2 separate regions of the Homo sapiens genome follow, and region 1 is linked to region 2. Evidence: fine-mapped expression QTL. A gene starts in region 2. The other region holds a variant in brackets. All regions are shown on one strand. Distances are from middle to middle.

Region 1 (11,398 bases), 110 kb after region 2:
GTATAAGGGGTTGATTTAGTTGGATTGAACTAAAGGTGAGGGAGTGGCTCAGGGTGTCTCCAGGTGGGCTGACCCCTCAGTTGGGCCCCCATGCTCAGCAGAGGTGGCCCACAGTGGTGGAGCCTTAGGGTCAGAGACACTTCCTGGCTCTGCCTCTTACTAGCTGGGTGACTTGAGGCAAGTTGTTTAACCTCTCTGTGTACATTTGCAAGTGCAAAATGGGTAAAATCCCAGATTACTCCACAAGGTTGTTGGAAGATTCAGTGTCAATATGTAGCATAGTTGGTGCTCAATAAACTGAAGCAAGTCTTCTTATCTAGCGAGTGAGGAAGGGGCCGCCGAGCTCTCTTAGCCTTCTGACCTCCTACGCAAGCAAGAGGTCATGTTGAGCCCAGCTCGCCTTTCTTTTCCCAGTGCTGTCAAGCTCTGTGCCTGGCTGCCCTGCCCTCTGACATCTCTCTGAAACCTCTTGCCTCCCCTCTCCCTGCCTCAGCTCAGTCTGTGCACTGACCCACCTGAGGAGCCTCCTGGGGCCACTGGCAGCCTGGACCCCCCCAGATCCCCCCCACCCAGTGAAATTGTCTTCCAGCACTGCCTCACAAAAGCCTACTTGATGCAGTGCCAGGCCTCTTGCCAGATGGCTGGGTGGTCCCTTAGGCTTGGACCCAGTCAAGCTGCCCTGCCTGTGTTGCTGGGGCTGGGCTAGAGGCCTGGAAGGGGTTTATCAGGGTCACCCTCTCAGGGCCTGGGAGATACCCAATCCCAGACATTAAAACTGCCAGTAGCCCCTCTACCTTCAAAGCCAAGTCCTGGTCCCTTCCCCTGGCATTCAAAGCCATCGTAAGTGAACTCTCACCCGCTAGGCAGCACACGCCATTCTCCTTTACCGAGGCCCACCGCTTCCTCAAAGTCATTCCTGATGGTCTCAGCTCATGCTGGTGGCAGCCATTTCTCCCAGCCTACTGTCTCTACTCATTGCCACAGGAACCAGGGACTCCCAGCTCAAGAGCCTGAAGGATTGGGGTCAGGGGAAATTGGCAGTCGAGGGCTTGGGAGTGACAGCCATGTATGGCCTACGAAGTCCCAGCTGTCAACTTAGGTCCCATTCAGGCAGTGTTCACAGGGAACCGGGAGATAACAGGGCCTGTTCCTGGCTCTCAAAGGGTCCCAGCAGACCCCTATAGATGGCCCCCGACAGGGTGCTGGGGGGTGAGAGGTCCATAAGAGCCCCCGGTGGTTTCGGGGAGGAAGCTGCCCCCTGCATGGGCCAGAGGGCATATCTGGTAGGTGGAGTGGCCTGGGCAGGAGGCCAGCAGGAGCCTCAAAAGGCAATGGTCCTCCTGAAACACTTGGGCTTTAGCCTGAGCGTGGCTGTTTGTGGACATCATAGCAATTTCTGGACTGTGGGGGAGGGTGGTGGCGGTGAATAGATAAGCATCGTGACTGGGGAAGCTCAGGTGAGCACCACCTGAGGGAGAGGGTCTGGCAGTGAATAAATAAGCAGTGTGACTGGGAAATTGTGAAGCTCAGGTGAGCGCCACCACCTCCTGGGTTGCTTTAGTGTCCAGCAGCTGCCTAGAACTATGTTGAATGAAGAGCTCTCTGGGTTCTGGAAGTGGGACAGCTTTGGGTGGGGCAGTGTTACCACCGTCAGCCTGGCTTGGGTCTGCAGGGTCCAGGGCCTCGGTCACTTTGCTTCTCTCTCCACAGCTCACTCCTGGGGGCAAAGCGGCGCAGGCCGGAGTGGCCGTGGGTGACTGGGTGCTGAGCATCGATGGCGAGAATGCGGGTAGCCTCACACACATCGAAGCTCAGAACAAGATCCGGGCCTGCGGGGAGCGCCTCAGCCTGGGCCTCAGCAGGTATGCGGGTGGACATGGATGGGTGCGCCCGCGCTGGCAGTGGGGATCCCTGCGGGCCCGGCCCGCTGTCACGCTTTCCTTCTCCTCCAGGGCCCAGCCGGTTCAGAGCAAACCGCAGAAGGTACGAGGCTGGCCGGGACATCCGGGCGGTGGGCGGTGTGGGCTTGGACGGCCAGGCCTGCTCGCCCTCCTGGCACATTCTCGGTACCCCAATCCCTGGCCGGGAGTGGAGGGCAGAAACCGGAGCTAAGGCGGGTCTAGGGCCCTGGAGTTGAGCCAGGGGCTGCTGCACGGTCCTGGCACCACGCATGTCCGCCTGTCTGTCCGCCTGTCTGTCCGCCTGCTGCCTCCCGCCGCCGGCGCTGCGTGCTCGCCCGCACTCGGTCAGCCCTCGGTCCTGCGTGGACTGAGATCGCCACTCCCAAATGGGCCCCTTGAAACCTGAGTCGTCCTCTCCCCGTAGCCTCCAAATAGATGTAGGGGGTGGGGTGGGGGTGGGGGGCTGGAGCTGCCGCTGTCCTCTGCTGCAGGCGCCCCACTTCCACCCAGGCCCCCACCTTACCCTGCCCGCCCGCCCTGCCCGGCTGTGTCTCTGCCCAGGCCTCCGCCCCCGCCGCGGACCCTCCGCGGTACACCTTTGCACCCAGCGTCTCCCTCAACAAGACGGCCCGGCCCTTTGGGGCGCCCCCGCCCGCTGACAGCGCCCCGCAGCAGAATGGGTACGTCGGCCCCTGCCCGCCCGCGCCCACGCCATCAGGCCCACTGTGGCCCCACGCCCGCTGCCCGCTGCTGCTCAGTCTGTGCTGCGCCCCAGCCCGGCGGAACCGTGCGGCAGCGCCCCCTGGCGGCCGGGGTGGGGCTGCAGGCACAGGGCCCCTCCCGAGGCTGTGGCGCCTTGCAGGGCACCGCCCTGGGGAGGGGTCTCTGAATGACGCCGCGCCCCCTGCTGGCGGCTGGGGGTTGGGTTGTGGTGTCGGGCCAGCTGAGCCCCAGACACTCAGTGCCGCCTTGTCCCCGGCTGTTCTGACCCCTCCCCGTCTTTCTTCCTCTCCTGTGTCTGTCCCTTTGTCCCTTTATCTGTCTGTCTGTCTTATTTCCTTCACAGGTGCAGACCCCTGACAAGTCAGTGAGCCCCCCTCTGCCTGTGCCTTTCTTCTTCCTTTTGGCACTCTGGGTGGCGGCCCCTCCCCACCCTGGCTGCCCTCCTCTCCACTTCGCCCTCCTGTCCTCTCACCTACCCGCCCAGCAGGGCTCCTGGCCTCACCCTTACCCACTCCCTCCCATCACTGTAACCCAAACCCACATGCACCAAATCCTGGGAGGGGCTGCCCCCACCGCCCACCCCCAGTGTGGGGTTCTGAGCCACACCCTCCCCACAGACAGCCGCTCCGACCGCTGGTCCCAGATGCCAGCAAGCAGCGGCTGATGGAGAACACAGAGGACTGGCGGCCGCGGCCGGGGACAGGCCAGTCGCGTTCCTTCCGCATCCTTGCCCACCTCACAGGCACCGAGTTCAGTAAGTGCCAGCCCAGGGCAGGGGGTACTTTCCTCGCCCCCAGCCCAGGCGTGATCCCTGACCCTGTGTCTTTTTTGGTCAATGCCTGCCTCTGCCCTCTCAGTGCAAGACCC[G/A]GATGAGGAGCACCTGAAGAAATCAAGGTACAGGGACGGGCACCAGCCCCTCTCCCACCTCCTGCCTCTTCCATTCCAGCTACTGCCCTGTGTCTACTCCTGAGGCTCCCAGCTGGGGCTCTCAATTCTCCCTTCCTTCCTTCCTTCCTTCCTTCCTTCCTTCCTTCCTTCCTTCCTTCCTTCCCTTCCTCCTTCCTTCCTTCTTTCATTTCTTCCCTCCCTCCTTCCTTCCCTCCTCCCTCCCTGCCTCCCTTCCATCTCTCCTTCCTTCCACTTCTTCCTCCCTCTCTCTCTGCCCCTCAGGGAAAAGTATGTCCTGGAGCTGCAGAGCCCACGCTACACCCGCCTCCGGGACTGGCACCACCAGCGCTCTGCCCACGTGCTCAACGTGCAGTCGTAGCCCGGCCCTCTCCAGCCGGCTGCCCTCTCTGCCTCCCTCTTTCTGTTCCTCCTGCCCAGGGCACCCCCTTAGTGCCTCCAGCTTCTGCCTACCTCACCCCCCCTTTCGTGCCCCTGGCCTGAGCCTCCTGCTGGCCTGGCCCTGGCCGCCCACCTGGGTTCATCTGACACTGCCTTCCCTCTTTGCCCTGTGGTACTGCTGTCTGCCAGGTCTGTGCTGCCTTGGGCATGGAATAAACATTCTCAGCCCTGCTTGCTCTGCCTGTCTTCTATCTTTGTGGACCTGGTTTGCATTTGGGGTGTGGGGGTGTTTCGTGGTTCGGACTGTTTGGGCCCTGCCGTCCTCGTTTTCAGTGGGAGGGGGTACCTGGCAAAGGGGCCCTGCCCTGCCATCACAGATGGCTTCCTGGCATGAGGGGAACCCCAGGAGCTGCCTCAGAAGCGGGAGCCCTGCCTCGTCTCCCAGCTAGAGACCGCACACCAGCTAACTGGACATTGCTAGGAGAAGCTGCCCTTCCCATCCCTACCCCAGTGGGACCTGGAATCCAACTCGGCAGTTTCCACGCCCCCAGTCATCTCCCGTGGGGCCAGCAGGACCCAGGTTGGGGGGTGGGGCCATGTCAGGAAGCTCAGCCATGCAGGGCCTTGAATGGCAGATCTTGCAGCCAGGTGCCCAGGACAGAAGCCCCAGCCCCAGCCTCATCTACACCCCAGGAGCCCTGGCCTGGTGAGAGGGAGTGGGCTCGGGCCTGGGCAAGGGTGGGCAGCCTCCAGGGGCATGGGGGTGGTGGGCTTCTCTCAGCTGCCTGGGGCTCCACCCCCGTCCTTTGGGGTCCCTGGGCACCCCTTTAGAGTCACTTTCCCCGGCAGGCCCTACCGCCCCCAGCCCTACCAGCCGCCCGCCCTGGGCTGTGGACCCTGCGTTTGCCGAGCGCTATGCCCCGGACAAAACGAGCACAGTGCTGACCCGGCACAGCCAGCCGGCCACGCCCACGCCGCTGCAGAGCCGCACCTCCATTGTGCAGGCAGCTGCCGGAGGGGTGCCAGGAGGGGGCAGCAACAACGGCAAGACTCCCGTGTGTCACCAGTGCCACAAGGTCATCCGGTGGGTGGCCTGTTCCTGTCCGACCCTGGCTTTCCCATCCTGCAGCCCAGCCCCACCTGTCTGCCCACCTGTCTTGCCTCAGCTGCGACTGGGGGGAATAAGGATTCAGTTCTCAGCTGGAGTAGGAGTAGGGACCTGGGCTGGGTCCTCCCATTCTTAATCCCACGCTACCTACCCCAGCCCACCCACAACAACTGCTAGCAGCATCTGCCGTGGCGAAATAGCCGAAGGGCCAACCATAGGCTGAAGCTGCACCCCTACCTTTGCTGCTCTCTGGGCAAAGAGGGGCCTGCCCCCTCCCAGCGCGTCTGCCCCTCCCTCCTGCTCTCTGTCTCCCTCTGCTCTCAGAGCATACAGGCCTGGAGCCACTCCCTCTGTGCACTGCCCCGTGGGGCCAAGCAGCATCAAACACCCCCCAGCATCAGCGTGCCGGATTCTAGAGCCTTCCTAATTCGCAGGCCTGGCCTGCTCTCATCTCTGTCAGCTCTTTTTTTTTTTTTTTTGAAACAGAGTCTCACTGTGTTGCCCACGTTGGCGTGCAGTGGCGCGATCTCGGCTCACTGCAACCTCTGCCTCCTGGGTTCAAGAGATTCTCCTGCCTCAGCCTCCTGAGTAGCTGGGATTACAGGCACCCGCCACCATGCCTGGCTAATTTTGTATTTTTAGTAGAGACGGGGTTTTACCATGTTGGCCAGGCTGGTCTCAAACTCCTCACCTCAGGTGATCTCAGGCCTGCCTTGGCCTCCCAAAGTGCTGGGACTACAGGTGTGAGCCACTGTGCCCAGCCGACTCTATCAGCTCTTGCCAGGTAGAACAGGCAGGCCAGCAGGACAGGGCAGCTCCAGGGTTTGCCCAGGGGCGGCTCAGCTTTTATGAGGCTCCAGTCGTCAGCCCTTCCTCCCGGGGTCCTCCCTGCTCTAAAGCTGCCTCTCCTGTCACCAGCAGTTCAGTGTGGCGGACTGGCTCTGTAAGCTTCACGGCTGCCACGGTCACTTCCCAAGCCTGTCTTCTATCCTATGTGGAAAATGGGGAGAATGAACTGTCCCTCCCAAGGCCTCCTGGTGGGTGGTCAGTCAACCTGAAGGGGGCCAAGACCCCCACCTCTCTGCGTGTGCTCCCTCTGACCGCTCTCGCCTCCCTGCAGGGGCCGCTACCTGGTGGCGCTGGGCCACGCGTACCACCCGGAGGAGTTTGTGTGTAGCCAGTGTGGGAAGGTCCTGGAAGAGGGTGGCTTCTTTGAGGAGAAGGGCGCCATCTTCTGCCCACCATGCTATGACGTGCGCTATGCACCCAGCTGTGCCAAGTGCAAGAAGAAGATTACAGGCGTGAGTAGGGCTGGCTGGCGGGGAGGTGGTCCCAAGCCTGTCAGTGGGAACGAGGGCTGCTGGGAAACCCACAGTCCAGGTCTCTCCCCGAGTGAGCCCTCCGGGTCCTTACCAGCGTAATAAATGGGCTGCTGTACTGGCCTCACCCTGCATTAGTCAGGATGCTCTTAACAAATGACCATGTTCCTGCTCAGAAACCGCCCAAGGCTGCAAAGAGCAGGAGGACCAAGCCAGGAGAAGCCCTGGGCCCTCCTGACTCCCACTTTGGGCTCTCCCTGCCCTGGTGAAATGACAGAACGGCCAACTTGACACGCTGAAGCTGCTCTGTCTCATGCGTCCTCCTCATTTCTGGATCCAGAGCCAGGGCTGCCAGGAGTAGCCAGAGAGCTCTGTGTGGTGATGTTCATATTAGTGAGGTTTACCTTGACCACGAGCAGTGGGAAACTCAAAATAATGGTGGCTTATTTCTCATCTAAAAACATCCCGGGGTGGGTGGTCTGGGACTGATCTGGTGGACCCAGGCTCCGCCTTGTTGCTTGACTGTTGGCAGCACCTGCTTACTTACCACTCATGGTGCAAGATGACACTTCAGCCTCCGCCAAAATGCTCACCTTCCAGCCAGCAGGAAGTCGGAAGGAGAAGAAAGGGGACAGAGCCCCATGGCGTCCATCCTTAGAGGATGCTGCCACCTGAACCTCTGCTTTCATCCTGTTGGTCAGAACCCAGTCACATGACCACACCCAGTGGCAACGGAGGCTGGGAAATATAGTCTTTATTTTGGGCACCCATGTGTCCAGCAAAACTGGGGGTTCCATCAGTCGGCAAGAATGGGAGAGTGGCCGATGCAGTGGCTGATGCTTGTATCCCAGCACTTTGGGAGGTCGAGGTGGGCAGATCACCTGAGGTCAGGAGTTCAAGACCAGCCTGGCCAATATGGTGAAACCCTGTCTCTACTAAAAATAAAAAAATTAGCTGGGTGTGCTGGCGCACCTGTAGTCCCAGCTACTTGGGAGGCTGAGGCAGGAGAATCGCTTGATCTTGAGAGGTGGAGGTTGCAGTGAGCCAAGATTGTGCCACTGCCTTCCAGCCTGGGAGACAGCAAAAAAAAAAAAAAAAAAAAAAAAAAAAAAAAAAAAGGGCCAGGCACGGTGGCTCACACCTGTAATCCCAGCACTTTGGGAGGCCGAGATGGGCGGATCACGAGGTCAGGAGATTGAGACCATCCTGGCTAACACGGTGAAACCCCATCTCTACTAAAAATACAAAAAAATTGGCCGGGCATGGTGGAGTAGTCCCAGCTACTCGGGAGGCTGAGGCAGGAGAATGGCGTGAACCTGGGAGGCAGAGCTTGCAGTGAGCCGAGATCGCGCCACTGCACTCCAGCCTGGGCGACAGAGCGAGACTCTTGTCTCAAAAAGAAAAAAAGAAAGAGAAATCTGCCTCCCAGCCTTGGGCTCCTGCCCTACCAGCCCACACCCCTGGTAGAGCCCCCTCTCCCACCAGCTCAAAGCCCAAGTTCCTTCACTGTGACCTTGTCTGCTCCTCTAAAACAGGCAACACCAGACAGTGAGAAGAGCCAGCCAGACATGGGCAGAAAACCTATTTCTGTGATCTACTGGCTGTGTGAGCAGGGGCTAGTTGCTCTCTCTGGGCCTCACTGAAGAGAAGGGTGGCACTATGCTAGGGCCGGCACGGTTGCAAGGTAGATGTAAGATGGGGTACAGGTGTTGTGGAGGGCAGAAATGCACCATCCGAAGGCTACATGTCCCCCACACTTATGTCTTGCTTGGCCCACACTGTTTCATTTTAAAATCAGTAGCAAACAATTTAAAAAATCAGAAGATTTGCCTGCATGATGCAGTGGCTCATGCCTGTAATCCCAGCACTTTGGGAGGCCAAGGTGGGAGGATTGCTTGAGCCCAGGAGTTCAAGACCAGCATGGGCACCATAGCAAGACCCCTGTTTCTACAAAAAAAAAAAAATTAGAAAATTAGCCAAGTGTGGTGGCATGCACCTGTGGTCCCAGCTACTTGGGAGGCAGAGGGAAAGTGAGATCTCCTGCTTTTTATTTCTTTATGTATAATGATAGGGTCTTGCTCTGTTGCCCAGGCTGGAGTGCAGTGGCATGATCACTGCTCACTGCAGCCTTGATCTCCTGGGCTCAGAGGATCCTCCCACCTCAGCCTCCCAAATAGCTAGGACTAGAGGTGCCCACCAGCATGCTCAGCAGATTTTTAAATCTTTTTGTAGAGATGAGGTTTTGCTATGTTGCCCAGGCTGGTCTCGAACTCCTGGCCTCGAGCGATCCTCCCACCTTGGCCTCCCAAAGCACTGGGATTACAGACGTGAGCCACTGCGCCCAGCAGATTTCTCTTTAACACCTAGATTTCAGCCTGAGCCAGGCAGGCATTCCTGAATGAACCAGTAGTACTGCTCCCAGAAGAAGAGGTCCTCCTCCGTGTGACACAGTCCCCACTTGGCCCTTGCAGGGATTGGATCTGGGATCCCTGGATTTAAACTCAGGGCCATCCTCATAACAGCCTCACAAGGCTGGGATTAGCTTCCCAGTTCACAAGGGAAGAAACCAAGACTTGAGAAGGTCAAGGTCTGGCCAGACCCACACATCTTGGACCCTCATACCGCCTCGAGGCCCCATGCTGCCCTCTGCCTGCTCCAGATGTGAATACTGCTGGCCCTGGCTGGCCCCGGCTGGCCCCGAGGGTCCTAGGGATGAACAGCCCAGCCCAGGGAGAGCTCAGCCCCTTGTGCCTCTGCCCCTTCCCACCTCCTGCGGAGGCCAGTCGACTCACCCACAAAGGGCCAGGCACTGTGGGGATAGATCAGCTAACAAAACAGTTGATGCTTCCTGCCCTTCTGGGCCTTACATTTTGGCTGGAAGAAGAGGGGAGAGGCAGACTGTAAGCAATAAGCGCAATAAGTAGGTTGCCTGGAAGTAATGTTAGATCACGTTACGGAAAACAGGAAAGAGCAGAGCGACAAGTGCTGGGGTGCGTGGTGCAGGGAAGGCAGCTGGCTGCTGCTGGTGTGGTCAGAGTGGGCCCTCATGGAGAAGACTGCATTCGAGCAGAAACTTGAAGGGGGTGAGGGGTGAGCCTAGAGATATCTGGGGCAGAGCAGTCCAGGCAGAGGGGACAGCCGGTGTCAAGCCCAGGACAGGAGTGTGCCTGGTGTGCCAGTTTCAGGCAAGAGGCCAGTGTGCAGAGGCAAGGTGAGAACGCAAGGGAGAGCAGTGGCGGAGACGGTTGGGAACGAGGTCAGACCTGCTGGCCTCCAGCCTCTGCATGGGGCTTGGCTCTTGCTGGGAGCAATGGGAAGCAGTACACAGTTTCATGCAGGGGGAGAAGGCCTGTCTTGGGTTGCAGGGGCACGCTGTGGCAGCTGGGATCAGAGAGAGGAGCTTGTAGGCCAGTTGTTATGTGGTCCCACGGGCCAGATGGCCATGGCTTACCTCACTTCAGGGAGGCTGTGAGAAGCACTCAGAATCTGGATGTGCCTTGGGGGTGGGCCCCACTGGATTTCCTGGTGGACCTGGTGTGGGGTGTGAGAGGAGGGTGTGTTTGGCTGCAGCAGACAGGAGAATGGAGTTGCCATCCGCGTGATGGGGATGGCTGTGGGAGGAGAGGTTTGGGGTGAGGGAATCAGGAACTGAGTGCTGGACATGGCAAGTCTGAAGGCGCAGTGGTCGTCCACTCAGAGACCTTGGAGTTGGAGATGGAGGTGTGGGAGTCCTGAACAGTTAGATGTAGTGTTTACCGCGAGAAGGAACAGGGCTTGCGGCCAGCCCTCCTGTGTTCCCGTGACCCAGGGCAGGGCAGGAGGGGCCTGAGCCTGCCGAGTGACTGGGACCTCCTTCCAGGAGATCATGCACGCCCTGAAGATGACCTGGCACGTGCACTGCTTTACCTGTGCTGCCTGCAAGACGCCCATCCGGAACAGGGCCTTCTACATGGAGGAGGGCGTGCCCTATTGCGAGCGAGGTACCCACTGGCCAGTGAGGGTGAGGAGGGATGGTGCATGGGGCAGGCATGAATCCAGGTCCTCTTTCTCTCTGCCCCCATTCTCAGACTATGAGAAGATGTTTGGCACGAAATGCCATGGCTGTGACTTCAAGATCGACGCTGGGGACCGCTTCCTGGAGGCCCTGGGCTTCAGCTGGCATGACACCTGCTTCGTCTGTGCGGTGAGAGCCCCGCCCCTCGAACTGAGCCCCAAGCCCACCGGCCCTCTGTTCATTCCCCAGGAGATGCAGGAGAAGTTGGGAAGGGGCCTCTCCTGCTGCCCCCAACCCCATGTGACTGGGCCTTTGCTGTCCTTAGATATGTCAGATCAACCTGGAAGGAAAGACCTTCTACTCCAAGAAGGACAGGCCTCTCTGCAAGAGCCATGCCTTCTCTCATGTGTGAGCCCCTTCTGCCCACAGCTGCCGCGGTGGCCCCTAGCCTGAGGGGCCTGGAGTCGTGGCCCTGCATTTCTGGGTAGGGCTGGCAATGGTTGCCTTAACCCTGGCTCCTGGCCCGAGCCTGGGGCTCCCTGGGCCCTGCCCCACCCACCTTATCCTCCCACCCCACTCCCTCCACCACCACAGCACACCGGTGCTGGCCACACCAGCCCCCTTTCACCTCCAGTGCCACAATAAACCTGTACCCAGCTGTGTCTTGTGTGCCCTTCCCCTGTGCATCCGGAGGGGCAGAATTTGAGGCACGTGGCAGGGTGGAGAGTAAGATGGTTTTCTTGGGCTGGCCATCTGGGTGGTCCTCGTGATGCAGACATGGCGGGCTCATGGTTAGTGGAGGAGGTACAGGCGAGACCCCATGTGCCAGGCCCGGTGCCCACAGACATGAGGGGAGCCACTGGTCTGGCCTGGCTTGGAGGTTAGAGAAGGGTAGTTAGGAAGGGTAGTTAGCATGGTGGCTCATGCCTGTGATCCCAGCACTTTGGAAGGCCAAGGTGGGCAGATCGCTTGAGGTCAGGAGTTCGAGACCTCATGGCCAACACGGTGAAACAGCGTCTCTAGTAAAAATACAAAAATTAGCCGAGTGTGGTGGGGCATGCCTGTA
Region 2 (8,294 bases):
CTTTTTGGTAAGGGCAGGGATTTTAGGATAACGCCAGACTGTGGGCAACTTTAAAGCCGTGGCCTTGACCCTCCCTTTCCCTAATCCCCGGGCCAATCCCCAGGGAGTCCTGTCTGGGCTTCCTCCACAGCACCTCTCTCTACCCACCCCCCACCAGGCCATCAAGCCACTGTCACCGCAGACCACAGCAGTGACCACCTAACTGCTCTCCCTGCTTCTCCTCTTGCCCTGGTATAATCCATTCCACATACGGCAGCCACAGTGAGCTTTTCAAAATGGAAATTAGATCAGGGCCCTCTCCAAAGGTTCCTGTCACACCCAGTGAGAGGGGTCTGCCACCTCCCGCCCTCCTGCCCCTGCCCCAGGTGGCCTCTCACAGGGCCTGAGAAGCCTGAGCCCGGGCAGGGGTGCCGAGGGGAGAGGGTGGGGGCGGGCGCTACCTGAAGTGGTCCACCTGGTTGAGCACGTAGATGTGGTGCCGGATCTTCTTCCTGCTCAGGAAGCGGCGCATGTGGGGCACGAAGACCAGGAGCTCCTCGAAGCGTTCGCGGAAGGGCACCAGCACTGCCAGGCGGTGGGGGCCCCAGGATGCGTCTTCTTCCCAGTGCTCAGGGGGCGGCTCTGGGGGGCAGGCACGGGGAGGGCCCGAGGTCTCCTGCCCTTGTCCCCTGACTGCCCGGGCCACGTCCCCAGAGCAGCTGAGCTGCAGCCAGAGTAGGGAGAAGAAGCCCAGCGAGAGGCAGGCCACGAACAGGTGGAAGACGGAACACTTCCGAGGGAGGCCGCCGGAGAGCAACCCGGACCTGGAGCAAGCGCGGGACAGGGTCAGGAGGGCGGGGCAGGGCTGGCCCTGTGACAGACCCGTTCTCTGGCCTCCCCACGAGGAGGCTGCACATAACTCGTCTACCCCAAGCACCTGGGAATTAGTACAGAAGCAACTTTAATGTTTCTGCTCATGCCACTACCATGCATCCGAATCCTGCTTGCCTCTCTAGACCCAACCCATGCCACCCGCTCTCGGGAAGCCCTCTGAACCACTCCCAGTTCACAGAGCTGCCCCGGCTCCTCAATGCTCTCTTACTTTCTGTGACTGAGTCCTGGTCAGAGCTGCTCAGGGCAAGGATGAGGAGGCTCCTGTCACTTGCAGGTGCTCCTCCCCACGATAGTGGCTCAATGTCCTGAGCCAATGACAGGAGTCCCCACCTTAGAGATGCAACCCACTGCTTTCCAAACCCGCTCCCCTACAGATCCACCCCAGCAGAAACCGTGGCTCCATCCTGCTTCCAAGAATGACCAGAAAGGCCACCCAGACACGGGTGTGTGCTGGCATTAGTCCAGGTAAAATGACCAATGTTTACTCTGGGAAGATCAGACGTGCCCCCCGAAGCAATGCAAGGCCCAAACTGTCAGTGGCGGTTCACTGAACGAGCCTCAAACCTTTAGTCCAAGAGGCAGCTCATGATAAAAGATGGGAGATGGAGAGGGAAAGAAAGATGAGGGCTGGGTACAGCACAGGCACTGATTTCAGAAACTGGAAAAACAGCTGAACATCACAGACACTGGGGTGATGCCAGGAGACAGCCTTTTGGTTAGCAAATACAAAGAAACAGAATTCACCAGATTCCTTTGCCGCTCCTCTGGAAGTTCCTGAGTATGCTGAGACAGGAGCTGAGGAATCCATGAAGGGAGAAGCTTCCTCTGTACTCCCCCTACCTTCTCCCCAAAGTAATCTGCAAAGGAATCCACTTCACAATCTTAAGAGTCAGCGATTAGCTATCAGGTCTTATAAATTCTATCTCCTGGCCAGGCGTGGTGGCTCACGCCTGTAATCCCAGCACTTTGGGAGGCCGAGGCAGGTGCATCACGAGGTCAGGAGCTCAAGACCAGCCTGGCAAATATGGTAACACCCCATCTCTACTAAAAATACAAAAATTAGCTGGGTGTGGTGGTACGCGCCTATAGTCCCAGCTACTTGGGAGGCTGAGGCAGAAGCATAGCTTGAATCTGGGAGGCGGAGGTTGCAGTGAGCTGAGATCACGCCACTGCACTCCAGCCTGGGCAACAGAGCGAGACTCCATCTCATAAATAAATAAATAAATAAATAAATTCTATCTCCTAAGTCCCCCTCTGATCCTTCCTCACTCATCTGTTCCTTGCCCTGCTCAGACCCCTTCAGTCTTCTGAATGACCCTCCTCTGTTTGCCAGACAAAGGCCAAGCCCTTTGGCCTGACAGTCAAAGCCCTCCATGACCTGGCCCCAACTCCAGGTGCTCCCAAGCCTTCGCCCCATGTTCTCATGTTGGGCACCTCGGAGCTTCTCCACTTGCTATATTCCTTCCTGCTCCAGCCCTCACACAGCCTGCTCCTTCTGCCTGAAATGTCCTTCTTTATCTGCCTGAGGACCCCTGTTGATCCTTCAGAGCCGAACTCCAATGTCATGGCCAGCACTGCCCCCTGCCCCCATAATGCTCCCACTTTTGTATTCCCACGGCATCTTCCCACTTTTTTGTAATGCCTTGTGTCCTTGCTTCTCAGGCCGTGTCAGATTCTTATCTGTGGCCCCAGCACAGCAAGCACAGGCCAGACAGCAGAGAGCTTGCCAAGTGAGTTACAGAAAGGGGTAAGGCAGTCAGGGCATGCCTTAAGTCACATGCTAAAGCCAGACCAACTCCTCCCTTTTTCTAGAGAGACCGCCAACCTGGAAGCCAGTAGCCTTGCAGCCAGGCCCAGGTTCCACACGCAGCTGAGAGGTGGCCTGGTAGGAAACCCCCCAGGGCTTCTGACTTACCCCCCATTATCCTGTGGTGGTGGATTCAGCTGGGGAGGAGCACAGCCCAGTCCTGAGAGTGGTCTGGGAAGGCTGGAACCTCTACAGATTCTCCCTTGCCCTCTGGGCTTTTTCTGGGGACAGGGTAGAGACTGGAGAGATGGATATGGGGTGATATCCCACCTTCATGAAAAGAAGCAGTGACTATTATCCAGGGGAACGGCGTGGACTGGGTACTCCGAGCACGTCCACACGCTAATTCCCTCGGCCCTGCTCCCCTCTCCTATGAGGACCACATCCCCATGGGCATCATCCTGTGCTCTAAGAGCACAAACCGCAGAGCAACTGGATTGAACCCAGAGTCCCAATTCCTCAGGACAGTGGACACCGAGAACAATTGTTCCTGGTGCCACCAGGTGGCAAACCAGATTTGCAGTCCCAGTGGCTCCCAGGCCCAGGCCACCCTGGCTCTGAGGGGCAGTCCAGAAGAGGCTTTGTCTCCCTCATCAATCACTGCCCAAGACTAGTAAAAGGCGGATTCAAACCCAGGCAGGCTGGCTCCAGAGCCTACACTAGATAGCTACACTAGCCTGCATCAGTTGCGTGGATCTTTGCACCAACCCTGTGTCAAAAGCACAGAATTGACATCAGTAAATTTCTCTGGAAACAGCTATGGAAAAGGATCAGGAAATAGAAATGCTCCTCTGTTACCTTTCCTTTCTTGTCTCATACAGACCTTCGTACTACGAGGTTTGAATCCTCAGCTGCTCTGGTTACAGGACCTCAAAACTGCAAAGGTAACGGGAAGACAACTGGCACCTCCTGTTGTGCTAGGCAGTGCCATGCTCTTTACATGTGTGCGGTCCTTTAATCCTCACACAGCCCTGCAGAGCCAATACTGTCATAACTGGCTCAGTGACGGAAAGGCTGCGGTCGGACAGATGCAGGGGTCTCTGCTCACATAATTACGGAGGACTCCTGCCCAGGTCGAACGCTAGTCCACGCTTTCTATTATATTCCTGTTTTCCCCTTTCAACACCAAGTCTGAAAAATCCCCAAAAGTACAAGTTGTGGCCACTAAATTCCAGAATCTTATGGCACCTGACGGACTTAAGAAACATGAAGGAAATGAGGTGTCATTCACGAGGAGGAGATCCAGTCATGTGTTCTGTGAGAAGACTTACAGGGACACATCTCAAGTGCCCCACGAATGGAGGCAGTCAAATCGCTTTCCCCATTCTGCTTTAGTGAGAAACAAAATTAGCTAAGGTGTGGGCCAAGCTCGCATCTTTCACGTAGGGCCAATACAGCTGCACAGGAAATGGACTAATGCGTGTATAAGGAGTGTCTAGTACGTGCCAGGCAGTGACCAGCCAGGCAGAGCACGGAGCTTCTGTCTGGTGGGTTCTGCTGGTGGCCTGCGAAGGATGGGGGGAAGTGTTAAGGAGGAAGGGTAGGGTCTGAGGCTATATGGATGTGATGAGGAAGGCAGAGACCAGAGAAACGGAATACACGTCCTCAGGGATCAGAGACAAATTGAGAAACACAAATCCATGGTGAGAGGTCAGCGGAGTCAGAGACCCGCATGCAGATAGAGGGAGGCTGGTGGAGAAACACAGACACAACGAAACACATAACGAGAGAGACTAGCAAAGAGGGGATCAGAAACTCACAAAGGGAAGTCAATGGAGAAATACGGACCCACGGGCCGGGGGGAAGGTGCTGGGGGAAGGACGAGTGCCGCGGAAAGGGAGAGGGGGCGGGGGAGGCAGAGACCCACAGGGACAGACAGAAACCGGAACAGAGCGCCAGGGACCCACAGGGAGAACCACACGCCCTCACAGAAACCCGCAGACATGGAGACGTGATGGCCTCGGGTTCCCAGATTCCGCCGGCGGCCGAGAAGGGAGCGGCGCCCGGGAGGACGGGGCCCGGGCCCACCGCCGCCGCTCACCTGCCGTCCTCCCAGGGCAGCTGCGCCGCTTTCCTCCGCGAGGGGAACATCGTGCGGAGAGGCGGCGGCGCATGGGGCAGGCGCTCGCAGCCCGGCCGGCCCGGCCTCCCGGGCCTACGCGGCGCCTCCGCCTCCCGCTCCGCCCAGGCCTGTCCGCCCCGCCCCCCGGTCCGCCGGGTCCGCCGCTCCGGCCGCGCCGCCAGCTCCCGGAGCCGCCGCCTCCAAGGTTCTGCTTGCGAGCAGCGCGGGCGCGCCTCCCTCTCTGGGCGGCTCCTTCCTAGCCGCCCCGGGACCCGCCTGGAAGCCCGAGAAACTGAAGCCCAGAGGCCCAGGGCCTCCCAACAAATCACTGGGCTGGGACTGGACCTAAGAGTCCAGACTCCCAAACCAACGCTCGGGGAGAATCTGCATCTCCGTCCTCTTTCCGAGGGGAGGCGGGAGCGTCCCGGGGTCCCCGTCTCGGCCCAGGCGGCGCGTTCTCCGCGCAAGCTTGGAGGGGCAAAGCCAAGCTCACGGCTCGGCGCTGAGTTCAGCTGACAGCCCGCGCAGGCGTTAGGAGCCGAGCCCTGAAGACAAGTTGACTGAATTTGAAACCCGACTCTGCTTGCCGGGCGCGGTGGCTCACGCCTGTAATCCCAGCACTTTGGGAGGCCGAGGCGGGCGGATCACGAGGTCAGGAGAGCGAGACCATCCTGGCTAACACGGTGAAACCCCGTCTCTACTAAAAATACAAAAAATTAGCCGGGCGTGGTGGCGGGCGCCTGTTAGTCCCAGCTACTCGGGAGGCTGAGGCAGGAGCATGGTGTGAACCCAGGAGGCGGAGCTTGCAGTGAGTCGAGATCGCACCACTGCACTCCAGCCTGGGTGACAGGGCGAGACTCCGTCAAAAAAAAAAGAAAAGAAAAAGAAAAAGAAACTAGACTCTGCCAATTCAGCTGTGTTTTGACCAAGCCACATCTCTGCATCTGTTTCCTCACCTGGGTATATCAATGGCTCCTATTCTATATGGTAGCTGTGGGGATTCAAGGAGAAAGTGCAAACACTTGTGCAGCGCTAGGCACACAGTTCAACGCCATATAAATGACAGCTGTCATCCAGGAAAAGGGTACTTTGGTGGAGCTGAGAACTGAAGAAGGGAATAGGAGACTGAGTTCCCATATCTGCCCCGTCACCGTGGGAACTTAACCATCCCCCTCACCCCCAGCCCCCCCACCCCTCCTACTAGCCTCCTACCTGGGGAAAGAAAGCGGCAATTGTTAGACTTGACCTCCTCTGCTCTTCCAGGCAAACTTTTAAGTTTCCTAATAGATAGCAAACATCTATTAAGTTCTTATTATGTGCCAGTCATTGTTAATAGTTCTTACTACATGAGGGTTATCTCACGTAGTCCTTATCGGTAGGTGCTTATCCCCAAGTTAAAATTGAGAGAACTGAGGCACAGAGAGGCAAATCAGGTAGTTTGGTTGCAAATCTATGGGTTTGGGGTTTTTGTTTTGTTCTTCCCCACAATCTATGATCTTAATCACTCTGCTCCAGAGAGAACTTCACCGTGGGTGGGAAATGAATCATTCCCAGTAACCCCTTTACCCCGTAAACCTGGAAGTATATAATCCACCCATTCCCCTTCCTGTTGACTCCCCCAGGGCACTGCATCCTACCCCAGAACCGTGGTCAATGCACAGCCCATCTAAAGGGGACCACTCCATCCGGTTAGCTGTTACTATATCAGGATGAAGCTCTACTTCAGATTGTCAGATTCACACTCTCAAGAAATCAGATCTCAAATGAAAACCCAAATTATCTAATTTTTAAATGTGATATCCAGCTAAGAGCCATGTTGATAATGACACTTCAACTCTGATCTCTTTTCTACTTTTTTATTTTATTTTATTTTATTTATTTATTTATTTTTTGAGACAGAGTCTCACTCTGTCAGTCAGGCTGGAGTGCAGTGGCACGATCTCGGCTCACTGCAACCTCTGCCTCCCGGGGTCAAGCAATTCTCCTGTCTCAGCCTTCCGAGTAGCTGGGATTACAGGCGCCTGCCACCACGCCTGGCTAATTTTTGTATTTTTAGTAGAGACGGGGTTTTACCATGTTGGCGGCTGGTCTCGAACTCCTGACCTCAGGTGATCCGCCTGCCTCTGCCTCCCAAAGTGCTGCGATTACAGGCGTGAGCCACCATGCCCAGCCTGTGGTCTCTTTTCAAAAACCCACAACTCTAGTCTAATCATGAGAAAAACATCAGACAAATCCTAGCTGAGAAATCGTACAAAATACCTGACCTGTACTCCTCAAAACAGTCAAGGAATCATCAAAAACAAGGAAGGTCTAAGAAACTGTCACAGCCAAAAGGAGCCTAAGGAGACACAGTGACTAAATGTGATGTGGAATCCTGGAACAGAAAAAGGACAGTAGGTAAAAACTAAGGAAGTCTGGATAAAGTAATGCATGATGTTACTAATAGGGAAAATGTCTTCACAATTTTTCTGCACTTTTAAAGCTGTTCTTTAAAAATACTTTTTTTTTTTTTTTTGACATGGAGACTTGCTCCGTTGCTCAGGCTGGAGTGCAGTGAAGTGATCTCGGCTCACTGCAAGCTCCGCCTCCTGGGTTCACGCCATTCTCCTGCCTCAGCCTCCCAAGGAGCTGGGACTACAGGCGCCCACCACCACGCCTGGCTAATTTTTTGTATTTTTTTTTTTTTTTTTTTTTGTAGAGATGGGGTTTCATCATGTTAGCCAGGTTGGTCTCGATCTCCTGACCTCGTGATCTGCTCGCCTTGGCCTCCCAAAGTGTTGGGGTTACAGGTGTGAGCCACCGCTCCCGGCCTTTTTTTTTTTTTTTTTTTGAGACAGAGTCTCACTGTAGCCCAGGTTGGAGTGTAGTGGTGTGATCTTGGCTCACTGCAACCTCTGTCTCCTGGGTTCAAGCAATTCTGCCGCCTCAGCCTCCCAAGTAGCTGGGATTTCAGGCATGCGCCACCACACCTGGCTCATTTTTTGTATTTTTAGTAGAGATGAGGTTTCACCATGTTGGCCAGGCTGGTCTCAAACTCCTGGCCTCAGGCCATCCACCTACCTCAGCCTCCCAAAGTGCTGGGATTACAGGTGTGAACCACCGTGCCCGCCAAAAAACTTTTTTTTTTCATGTGGAAGAATTAGTTGGCAGCATGAGCCCAGATTGCATCATCCCATTAGGGGAAGCAGCCCCCAAACTTGTCTCCTTCTTCCTGGTCTTTCTCACACACTGCTGTAACCTCCCTCACATTTCTTATTAGAAGGTTCTTCTCAAAACTGCCTGCCCATTTGCCTCCCCCAACCCCCAACAGCAGCCTCACATCCCTGATCAATAACACTGTGATTCTGAGGTGCCAGTAGGGCTCTCAGTGGCTTTACCAGACCCTGGGTGATTACTGCAAAGGGCCCAGAGGCCAGAGGGAGGGGGGCAGGCATTTACCCCACCACCTGCTCAGTATTAAGCCAGCCAAGCTGCTGCCTTCAGCTTGTGCCTGTGGGTGCCTGCAGCCCCTCTTGAAAGGTGGGCATGTCCAAATCGCTTACCTGGAGCTCG

What was found. PIP is the estimated chance that this variant, and not a neighbour inherited with it, causes the effect.
Region 1: its variant is the best candidate, but not a certain one, in a credible set for the expression of B4GALT7 in whole blood (INTERVAL, PIP 0.81).

The regions. Positions count from the first base shown.
Region 1 is chr5:177,482,990-177,494,387 of GRCh38, reverse strand. PDLIM7 (PDZ and LIM domain 7) reads left to right here. Exons shown (of 13, transcript NM_005451.5): 3 at 1,711-1,862; 4 at 1,953-1,983; 5 at 2,463-2,581; 6 at 3,242-3,378; 7 at 3,482-3,518; 8 at 4,556-4,617; 9 at 4,761-4,995; 10 at 6,140-6,320; 11 at 10,198-10,318; 12 at 10,406-10,521; 13 at 10,658-10,994. The coding sequence ends at 10,744. Among named protein-coding and RNA genes, the nearest start is that of PDLIM7, 8.9 kb to the left of the region's middle. RefSeq lists enhancers at 1,469-2,010, 2,011-2,554, 2,586-2,880, 2,649-3,614, 8,941-9,656 and 1 more and a silencer at 2,692-2,791. The variant G/A (reference allele first, on the strand shown) is at 3,492.
Region 2 is chr5:177,596,688-177,604,981 of GRCh38, reverse strand. It overlaps B4GALT7 (beta-1,4-galactosyltransferase 7), which reads right to left and starts at 4,850. Exons shown (of 6, transcript NM_007255.3): 1 at 4,722-4,850; 2 at 441-803. The coding sequence starts at 4,771. It overlaps TMED9 (transmembrane p24 trafficking protein 9), which reads right to left. Exons shown (of 5, transcript NM_017510.6): 5 at 7,740-8,294. RefSeq lists a silencer at 4,498-5,037 and enhancers at 5,218-5,397, 5,598-5,697.